Linked DNA regions of Homo sapiens. The protein of the gene in region 2 interacts with the protein of the main gene of each other region in a pairwise test. Each region holds a gene or a part of one and is shown on either strand. Other genes may lie near its edges.

Evidence for each region.
Region 1: the proteins of FAM168B (region 2) and MSRB3 interact in binary tests that used the Homo sapiens proteins (3 or more experiments, as listed by UniProt).
Region 3: the proteins of FAM168B (region 2) and VGLL3 interact in binary tests that used the Homo sapiens proteins (3 or more experiments, as listed by UniProt).

What each region holds. Positions count from the first base shown.
Region 1 is NC_000012.12:65,456,640-65,460,392, reverse strand, and holds part of MSRB3 (methionine-R-sulfoxide reductase B3 isoform 2 precursor), read right to left. Parts: intron 1-3,753. UniProt on the Homo sapiens protein: Catalyzes the reduction of free and protein-bound methionine sulfoxide to methionine. Isoform 2 is essential for hearing.
Region 2 is NC_000002.12:131,091,334-131,095,086, forward strand, and holds the start of FAM168B (myelin-associated neurite-outgrowth inhibitor), read right to left. Parts: upstream 2,128-3,753; 5' UTR 1,881-2,127; intron 1,830-1,880; exon of another isoform or gene 1,318-1,829; intron 631-1,317; exon of another isoform or gene 476-630; intron 1-475. UniProt on the Homo sapiens protein: Inhibitor of neuronal axonal outgrowth. Acts as a negative regulator of CDC42 and STAT3 and a positive regulator of STMN2. Positive regulator of CDC27.
Region 3 is NC_000003.12:86,970,400-86,974,152, forward strand, and holds part of VGLL3 (transcription cofactor vestigial-like protein 3), read right to left. Parts: intron 1-3,753. UniProt on the Homo sapiens protein: May act as a specific coactivator for the mammalian TEFs.

The DNA.
Region 1 (3,753 bases), on a different chromosome or scaffold from region 2:
ACTGTTACCCGGTTTCTTTGAAAAGCGCACAAGCCTTGAAGGCTCCTCCCTGAGAGTACGCGCACGGAGCCCATTCTTTGCAGCTTCTAGCCTTGGGAAAGCTGGGAGGATAAATGGAAGTTGCCAGAGGAGCATTGTTTCTTTAGCTGCCTGCAAGCTCTGCCTCCCAGGCCCCAGCCAACTGGCAATGTGTTGGGGTTTCTCAGTACACCTGGTTGTAACTGAAACAAACTGGTTGCTCGATGAAGAAATCTCTGAGACCTGCTGTTAATGATTTATTTCAGGATAGAATCTTTAGTGTGCATTTTGAATGTTGTTTTTAATGGTTATGTGTTTCTTTATTTCACAGGTAAATGTACCTGAATATACTGGTCTTCATTCTGAAGAGCATCAGATGATTGTTCAAAAGAAAAAATTTGAATTCTCACAACAATCCTTTATCACCTAAGCCTCCCACTCAGAAAAGCTGGCAGCTAAAGAACCTGCAGAGAACCAAGGGAAAGGACCCCCTAAAATAAGTGTTTGAGCATCAAGTTTAACATAATTCCTTAAAATCTGACTGCAGTTCTCAATTGTATACATAAGAAACACAAATAGTGTATTCAACACAGTTACATTTTTCTGCACTGATGTATTTCCCACTGTCTTAGAGGTTTTTCTCCTAGCTATTCCTAGGATGTTTGGGCTTTATTATTGTCATTTTCTCTTAAGTGTTTGATCTATGAAATGAAGCATTTTCAAAGCAGGGCTTTTACACTTGGACACATGGGGCAGGATGGGAAAAGTTTTAAGAAGAAAAGCAATTTACTTTGCCAGTAGTATTCTGTTTTCTCCCACTGTTATTGAAGACACTTGTGTGTAAGTGGGGGCTTTTTTTCCTCTGTGCTTGTGATATTAATCTTTTGCCAAGGAAATGACTGTGAAGTCACCAGTTTAGCATTATGATTTTACTGAAAGATCAAGAAAAAGAGAGATGGGCTGTGAGTCTGAAGCCCTATTGTAACACATGTGTATCTTTAATCATCAGCAATATGTGAGTTGTCATCTGTAGAAGATTAATAAGGTTTGGGGTTTTTACCAAAAACTGCTTAACTTTTGAAAAATACTTTCTATTGGTGCATATTTACCTTTCTGTTGATTTGGCTGACTTAGAACAAATTAATAATGATCTTAAACAAACTTAAGGGACTATACCATAGACTCAAGCAGTAATAGCAGCACTCATAAATAGACTCCAACGTGGGTAAATTCAGAGATCTGATGGTTTCCTTAAAAAAATATTACAAAAAGTTAAGTGATTTATTAGTCTCCCATTTGCTCCAGCTGGAGGATTTTGATCTGAAGAAGGAAGAATTCCCCAAGTATTCTAGAAGGAACTTACTTCACTGAACTGCAGGTTAAACTGTGGAAATCTTACTTCTTTGCACTGAATTTAAACTCCTGACAAAGCGTTGCTTAACAGGCTGGGGTTGGAGGATTAGGGAGAGGCTGTTGAATAATTATTCATAGTAGTCAGTGAAACTGGAATAGAAGCAATGTATTTTATCACTAGTTGAAAATATAAATTAAATCAAGGAAAATTCTTTATAGCTGAAAATTGTTACAAGATGGCTGCAGCTGGAGGGAAAATACATGTGCCCACCAAAGCGAGTAAATTTAAGATGAAGATCCTCTTTGGAAGAGATAACTGAAATGTAATTCCTCAATTCAGTAGGTGGAATAACAAAAGAGAACAAGTAAAATTGCAACAGAAATCAGAATATAACAGGGTACCCATAAGCAACAATTATAATGAAGACAGTGAAGAATCTCTCCGACCCTTGCTTGTTTTCAGTGCTGTCAATGCAAAGATTAGGCAGTGTGCTGTTTCCTACACAACAATTCTTTTAGAAGAACCTCACTGCAACACTTCTAGAAAAAGTGGTGATAGGACTGAACCAATCTGAACTCTCTCAGTAAATCTTTACTAAAAACATTATCTGAGAAGTCACTGGACACATGGACAAACCTCTTTACAATGTACTGTAAAGCGGTGGTAGGCTATTGGCTCCCAATGAGTCTACAATTCCTATGCAAATATGAGGCCTAATTCACTGTATGCATGGTGTCATCCCTACCACAATTTTTTTTAAAAAAGGATCCTAAGCACTGAAGTGAGAATTAGGTAGGAACCAAAAGAACAATGAAATATTGCCATATTGCCAAACTGCTGATCAGGTTGAGTTGATTCAGGTTTTGTCCATGAAGGCTCAGTTCATTTGTAGAAGTTGGCAGTTAAAGGTTCTTCGTATTTAGATATTCCATCTTTACCAAAAGGAAAGAAATACACCACATAACACATCCGACTGAAAATGTCTACAACACACTAAAAGCATCTAATAGATTTTTTATAACACAAACCATATTGAGGCAACTCAGTCCAGAGAAAAGACAAGCCACGTAAATTAAGAATACAACAAGAATTTTAGAAAGAGAGCAAACCAGAATAGTTTCCCACATTATCTCACCAGCAAAATAATAATAATAATAATAAAATAAAACTCTTAAAAAATGGGAGAAGCTGGCTGCATAAATGTCTTCTTTTGAGAAGTGTCTGTTCATATCCTTCACCCACTTTTTGATGGGTTTGTTTTTTTTTTTCTTGTAAATTTGTTTAATTTCTTTGTAGATTCTGGATATTAGCCATTTGTCAGATGGATAGATTGCAAAAATTTTCTCTCATTCTGTAGGTTGCCTGTTTAGTCTGATGATAGTTTCTTTTGTTGTGCAAAAGCTCTTTAGTTTAATTAGATTCCATTTGTCAATTACACCATGGAATACTATGCAGCCATAAAAAAGGATGAGTTCATGTCCTTTGCAGGGACATGGATGAAGCTGGAAACCATCATTCTCAGCAAACTAACACAGGAACAGAAAACCAAACACCACATGTTCTCACTCATAAGTGGGAGTGGAACAATGAGAACACATGGACACAGGGAGGGGAACATCACACACCAGGACCTGTCAGGTGATTGGGGGCTAGGGGAGGGATAGCATTAGGAGAAATACCTAATGCAGATGATGGGTTGATGGGTGCAGCAAACCACCATGGCACGTGTATACCTATGTAACAAACCTGCACGTTCTGCACATGTTTCCCAGAACTTAAAGCATAATAAAAAATAATAAAATAAAATAAAATAAACGGGAGAAGTTCTGAGCAGAAGAAGAGACTACATGAACTGAAAAACTGTAAGGTAAAAGAAGATAAACAGATAATGAAAAAATAGTGCTAAAAATGAGAAACTAGGAAGTAAAATACAAGTGACTGCTCTAGCATGGGAACTACTAAATCTTTTATTTTATCAAGTCAAGGTAAAAAAAGATGCCTGAGAAAAAGGAAAATTTTAAAAAAAGAAAGAAAATTATAAAACAAAAGGAAAATAAACGTGAATGGAACACACAAATAAAAGACAGAGAAATTGAAATGAAAGATACCCAGTCCACTTGAATTCAGTACGCTGTTTTTGTGCTTAGGTGGCAGACACCCCCTCCTCCATCCACAAGGGCAAGGGTGTGGCACACATACCATTCGTTAGTGCTGGAACCTCATTCTCTCCTGCATAGAACTTACTTTACTCCAAAGCGTGTATTTTCATACATGCCTTAGCGGAACAAATTCCTCTCCCTCTTTTCTTTAAATTTAAGAGTTCTATTTAAGAAAGAGTCAAACACTTTCTAAATATGAAAAGTGAAGGCTGTGGAAAAAGA
Region 2 (3,753 bases):
CTCAAAAAAATAAATGAATAAATAAAAAATAAAGCATATAGGCCGAGCGCGGTGGTGTCTCCAGCACTTTGGGAGGCCGACGTAGGTGGACCACCTGAGGTCAGGAGTTCAAGACCAGACTGGGCAACATGGTAAAACCCCGTCTCTACTAAAAATACAAAAAATTAGCTGGGCGCAGTGGTGTGTGCCTGTAATCCCAGCTACTCGGGAGGCTGAGACAGGAGAATCCCTTGAGCCCGGGAGGCGGAGGTTGCAGTGAGCCGAGATCACGCCATTGCACTCCAGCCTGGGCGACAGAGCGACACTCCGTCTCACAAAAAAAAAAAAGAAAAAAGAAAAGAAGTTCTCTCCCCCAAACTTTACCTTCATTACCAAGGTTTGGGTTTGCATTTTACTGGGAGGAATTCATGTATTTCTGCACAGTACAATCAGACAGACTTAACAGACTGGACACAAGGCATGAAAAAACTATTACTCTATTACGCTGGTGTACTGTTCTTTTAAAATTGTGCTCGGCCAGGCGCGGTGGCTCACGTCTGTAATCCCAGCACTTTGGAAGGTCGAGGCGGGCGGATCACGAGGTCAGGAGATTGGGACCATCCTGGCTAACACGGTGAAACCTCGTCTCTACTAAAAAAAAAAAAAAACAAATACAAAAAAATTAGCCAGGCGTGGTGGCGGGCGCCTGCAGTCCCAGCTACTTGGGAGGCTGAGGCAAAAGACTGACGTGAATCCGGGAGGCGGAGCTTGCAGTGAGCCGAGATGGCGCCACTGCACTCCAGTCTGGGAAACAGAGGGAGACTCCGTCTCAAAAAAAAAAAAAAAAGTGCTCAATTGATCCAGGAAAAGAAACTGTCTAAGACAACTTGGGTATAATTTCCCTTTAAACTACGGAACTCCACCAAAGTAAGCCTGCTTTGTAAAGACAAAGAGAAGCAAGATCTTCACAATTTCTGCAACACTAGCTTCAAAATTAGAATAGCCTTACACTGCTCAAATCTTGGCTGTCAAAGCAAAAATAACCCACTCCTTCATCTACAAGAGCTTAAAAATGTGTCCTGTTTTTGCCAAAACCAAAAAGTTTTATTTAATCTAGAATCTTTCATCCATAGTATTTGAGAAAAGTGATCTCAAATTACACAAGGATGACCTGAAAGTTTAAGGAGTGGAAACTATATAAACCTTTTTATTTATAAAGCTTCCTTGCATGCGAAAACACTGCAAAATATTCTTGTTTGACTTTAATGATTAAACATTAACTCAAACAGCCCATGAGATGCACACTTCATGTTCACATACACTATAAAACAGAAATACCCTTATTTGTGGACGTCGTAAAGGCGCACTGCACTCTTTTTTCAAAGTTAACCCAGGCTAGGCCACGAAACGTCCTTTCTGAAGGAAATCTTAAAAATCTGTAATTTAAATCGTGCCTTTTCAAGCTGGAAGGAGAACGCTCAGATTCCGCCAAGCAAAAAAATAAAAATAAAAATTATCTTTACTTCGTGGGTAGACAAAGTGAGCAGTTACACATTGGAAATGACTATTGTCACAAAGCTCTGCCCCCGGGTTTCACGCTCGCATTCCTGACGGCTGTGACCCCGACCTTTAGGAGAACGCCCCGCGCCGCGAAGCCACCTCGGCCACCTAGGCGGCAGGCCCGCGCCGCCCGGACCGCACCTGCACGCGTACGTGTCCGGCCGAGCTCCGCCCCCGGCCCCCGCCCGGCCTTGCCCGCGGCACAAAGCGCAGCCCAGGCCGGTCCAGACGCCCAGCGACCCCGAGCCGCGGGCCGACCTTGGCGCCGCCCCGAGCCGGCCGCACAAAGCGCCGCACTTCCGGCCTGGACGCGCAGTCGCCCGCTGCCCGCCCCCACTCACCGCGCCGCGGCGGCGACCTGGGCCTCAGTGACCAGCGCACGCCGGCCCGCGGCGGGCTTGGCCGTGGGGCGAAACAAGGGGGGCGTGCCGAGGAGACCTGCTACGATAAGAGGCTGACCCTCCGAGCCCCGCGTCTCCGCCGCCTCCCGGACGCCGCGCTCCCGCTCGCTCGGCTCCGCTTGGCCCGGCCCGCCTCTCCGCAGCCCGCGCTCCCCGCCGACGCTGCGCAGCCACCGGAGCCGCCGACCTCACTTCCGCCTGAGCGCGCCGCGACGGGGGCGCGCCGGGCACGTGACTGCGCAGCGTGCTCGCTCCCGCCGGCGCCCTCGAGACGCCCGGATGGACGAGCGCGAGCGCGAGCGCGGAGTGGGCCGGTCCCAGTTGGCGAAAGGGCCGGGTGTAGCTGTAGTTTTTTTATTAACTGTCTGTGAAAAAAGTATTTAATTTATATTTTGAGATAGTCCCGCGCCGCAGAAACCTTTGTGTGTGCCCAGACGCCAGGGCGCGGATCCTCAGGCCGCACCCGGGAGTCGAGCACACCCCGGGTGACCGCCACTACGGGGTCGGAGCGGGGCGGAGCTCAGCTCACAGATTCTTTGCCAGTGCGGAGGCTGCGGGCGCCCGCTCAGGAGTGCAGATTTTAGAGAATGCAAGTCAGCGTTTCAAGTGTAGAAGTGCGGGATCATTTCTATAGACAAGAGTTCAGGGAAGTGTACTAGAATGTTAGGGGGTTTTTTGGTTTTTTTTTGAGACGGAGTTTCGCTCTTGTCACCCAGGCTGGAGTACAATGGCGCGATCTTGGCTCACTGCAACCTCCGCTTCCCGGGTTCAAGCGATTCTCCTGCCTCAGCCTCCTGAGTAATTGAGATTCCAGGCGCCCGCCACCACACCTGGCTAATTTTTGTGTTAGTAGAGACGGGGGTTTCACCATGTTGGTCAGGCTAGTCTCGAACCCGTGACCTCAGGTGATCCACCCACGTTGGCCTCCCAAAGTGCTGGGATTACAAGTGTGAGCCACCGCACCCGGCCAAATGTTAGTATTTTTATGTAAGGCTTAGTGTATAGTTACAATGATTTGGTTAGTTCAGGGTGTCTCTCTGGGGGAGGTATGTTTATTATTTCGTATTAAAGAGGTGCGTGTCTTGGTGTTTGTGTTTGGGGTGTCGTCTGGTCTGAGCTAGGTACAGGACGACAAAGGAGGGAGTTATTGCAATAAAGATTAGTGATGGAAGGGAGGAGGCCTGGCTCTGGTCTTTTTTCAGTCGTTTATGAAATAAAAACAGATGGGCGCGGTGTCTCACGCCTTTAATCCCGGCACTTATAGGAGGCCGAGGCGGGCAGATCACGAGGTCAGGAGTTCAAGACCAGCCTGGCCAACATAGTGAAACCGCGTCTCTACTAAAAATACAAAAATTAGCTGCGCGTGGTGGCGCACATCTGTAACCTTAGCTGCTCTGGAGGCTGAGGCAGGAGAATCTCTTGAACCCGGGAGGCGGAGGTTGCAGTGAGCCGAGATCGGGCCACTGCACTCCAGCCTGGGCGACAGAGGAAGACTCCGTCTCAAAAAAAAAAATAAAAATAAAATATAAATGTGATAAAAGGACAAGAAGAAAACATGGGGAAATTCCTTTTTAGTATTGGAGTAAAGAAGGCTTTTCTACATTATTACTTGAAATCCAGAAGTCATGACTATGAAAAGCTTTGGTCGGCAAAAAGCACCATAAGCAAAGTCAAAAGATAAATGATTAACAAGGAAGAAATAGTCCCAACACATGTAATAGACAAAGCTAATCTCTTTAATATTCCAAAAGCTTCCAGAAGTCAACAATAAAAAGCCCTACCACCCAATAGAAAAAGGAGAGTTCACAGCAAA
Region 3 (3,753 bases), on a different chromosome or scaffold from region 2:
CAGACTGAGTGGGGGCTAGCCCTGGGAAGTAAGCTTTAGGCAAATGGATCAGCACATAAGAAAAGGCCATATATTACACACACGCACACACACACACACACACACACACACACACACACACATATGACAGCAGCAGCATTTGAAAGACAAAAAGAGTTCCATAGGCAGAAGGTGGCAACAGAAAAATTGAGACTATTGAAATGAGGACCAAGATGGGTGTAGACTTGCTGGCCATGGTACTGAATGTAAATTCTATTCTGAGGTGGCAGGGTCTCAATGGGCTTTGAAGGGTTTTAATCTAGTAAGTGACACAGTCAAATCCGTTTGTGGAAAGATCAGTGCCTCCACCTGTAGCCTGTTGCCTACAGTGTTGTATAACTAAACAAGCACTGGGCTGGGAGACCAAGGAGCCCAGCTCTGATCCTAGGTCTTACCCTATCTCATTTTATCACCCAATATGGACCCATTGATCTTTCCATGGTTTACTTTCTTTCACTAAGAAAATGAAGTATTTGAACTCATTAATTCAAATTATCTACGGCTTAATACTGCTAACAGTCTGTGAAGTGCCCTATGGATTATTTTTATTTACAGAAGAAGACATTTTCTAAAGATGTTAGTCATGTGAGTTTAAGAGAGTATTTTTATACTGAGTTCCACATAAAAGAACCTTGCTAGATCTTTCCATTGAATGAAGGGTATGAATGGAGGATATCTTAAGAAGTATTTTAAAATAAGAATATTCAAAACTCTGACATTATCTATGTTCTCTCTATAAATATCAGGCCATAGTTTTCTTGCCTCAGGGAAAGCTTAAAAAACTTCAGTCAACCACCACATATATCATTTGGTTAACATAATTCGGCATTACTGTGGTGTGTGAACATTTCCTCTCCCCTAAAGGCTGTGGCAGCAGCACTGCAAGCTCTTCTATTCTCTCCCCTTCAGCTGGGCACCAGAGCTATGATCATGACCATTCATCCCATTCATCCTGTGGTCACACAGCTATTCACAGTCAATTCCCTCTCTCACAACATCTCCATCGATCTCAAAACACTTGGGGAAATCTAGGAAATGGTGTTCTTCAAAAGGCAAAGAATGGAACTGCACACTTTAAGTCTTCAAACAACCTCAGGAAACTTTTAATTGAATGACTTTGTTAAAATCACAATCTATCCAAAAATACCACCTATAATCAGCCTTACTGACATTGAGGTAACTATGTTTTCTTGAATTAACAATCGTCTCTTTGCAACATATGAAAAATACTATTAATGACAAGAAGGAAAGTCGTGTAAGTTGTAAGAAGAAAATTCAATTTGCCTTAGGTGATGGTCATTTGTAAAATATTTCTGTCATACCCACAATGAAAGCCATCAATGTTTAAAGCTTAAAACCCATACAGAGAGTTTAGAGAGGCTCCTTATTCTACATAGTTCATCCTTGCTACCACACATCTGCCACTTTGCTCTCACAACTCCCATCTTTGGGACCAAAGCCTTCATTCTGCTCCTAACTTCCATCTCCCGAGGGGCTAGAATCCTATTATGAAAACCGTTGAGCCCCAACCACAAGTACGTGCCAGAGATATAGAATTCCCCTTATTAAAATCCACCATTAAGATGTCAAAAGTACGGAGAGTATATACCATTTCTCTGTATGCTTTTAGTCTCATTTATATGTACATGGAGCCAATCTTATTTTATAGATGCTTATGCAGTTTGAATATGCATGCGCAAATGGGAATAATGAATCAATTATTTATCAAAAATATTATTGGTCTATTTATGAAGTACTGTACCATGATTAGTGAAGACATTATTACTGAAAGTAGAAATCTATTTTTGAAAATGCACTCCATAAAGATTGAACAAAGTTTTAAAATGCTCCAGGGAAAAATAAAATTAAAAGGAACTTAATATTTTCCCAGTCAATATGTCTCTTGAGATGAATATAAAGTTTGCAAAGATCTATGCAGCCCTTTAAAAAAAACCTGTTACATTTACAATTGAAACAATATTGAGTTGAAAATATGTTTATGAAGAAGTTTATACTTCAAAATCACTATTCGGTGTCTTGCTTGTTTAAGAAAAAAAAGTCTTGATGCAAAGGAAGAGATGATATGCTTTGTTTCATGCCTGAGAACCAGTGTGCTTATTTCATATGTATGTAAATTTTTTTCATTACATGATTCTTTGCTTATGAGTACTTAATCACAGCCACATTTGTTGGATGAAGAAGACATATGAAAAACTGCATGGGCTATTTCTATGCAATATTACATTTCAGGTGAGTGAAGAAAATACAATACTTTATGCTATTAACACTATATGGTGAGTTTGGATTCAATATTACCTGGTATACAGGTGATGTTAACCAATATTTGGATGATGTTGACACTGACAGTCTAACACATACAAAATGCCCAACTGTAATTTTGGTTCAATTTTCATTTGGGGTTAAAAATATTACTCACACATACATACACACGAGTTTATTTCTAGACAAAAAAGAAAATGATAATATTGATACATTGTCTAATAAAATCCACTAAAAGCAAACCCAGTAATCTCACTATCTGATTTAGACTGCAACATGGTATACCAGGTATTTCTTTCAATTTCACAATAGTGGGATACTTTTTACACTGATTGTAAATGTCTCTTAAAAAAAACACACACACACACACATTACCTCCAAAAAAATTTTTTAAAATCTCCGAGTAAAAAATTTAAGAAAGATAAGATTCAAAATTTAAAGAATGATACAGCTTATTAATTTTGAAAATAACAAAAACTAAATTAAAAGGAAAATGGGACAATGAAGTGTTATAGAAACTCTAAGTCATCTTAAAAATTTCCAGAAAACACATTAGAATCAATATTGATTAAAATATGATTATTAAATGCTAAAAGGTAACATTTTTACATTTTTTATTAATATCAGTTAAAAAACAAAATTCTACTCAATTCTTAAGCTAAAGTGTTCTTGCTGTAATTTCATTGCCATTCTCTTGTTGTTCTTCCCATAAAAATAAATGGCTGGGTCAGAAGTGAAATGACATGTGTTCCAGTGTTTTCTGTCATTCAGTAATTATGCATTACCATTATGTCCAAAGATTGCCTTCTAGTTACTTTCTTCTAGAGTTGCTCAAAATGGGCCTTGTGACTCTACAATGAGAGTTTCAAGGGATGATGTCAGAGGCCGATACTCCTTGGAGGCAGCAGGGTGAGATTAGTCACGCCTCACTTTTTTCCCCATGTCTTGGTCCTATGGACATTCTGTTCATTTCCAGTATCAGCCAGCTCATCAGACAGGCCCTCCTTTTCCTTTCTCCATTTGACTATTTAGGTTTCGTATTTATTTTGAGAGCTTTTTCCCATGAGAATGAATTGCCCAAGCAGACCCTATGTACATCAATGAGCCAACAGATGATTTTCTTTGCAACTGCAATATCAGTAAGATTAGCATTCTGTATGGTTTTAAGTCAGTGATTTACTCTGCTATGGCTTGACATAGCTCCTGCCCTTTTCTACAGATACACACAGACTCATTTCTGTAAAGATCAGTGCATAGGCATATTTGAAACCAATGTTTAGCGCTGTGCTAAATTAATCATATAGATTATTTTTAAAATCTTTATAATAACTCTAGGAGAAGGGTATCAAGAAACATATATTTGTATGGAGATAAGGGACCAATCATATTCATTAGGTTTGTTATTTTTTTTTTTTTTTAGATAGAGTCTCACTC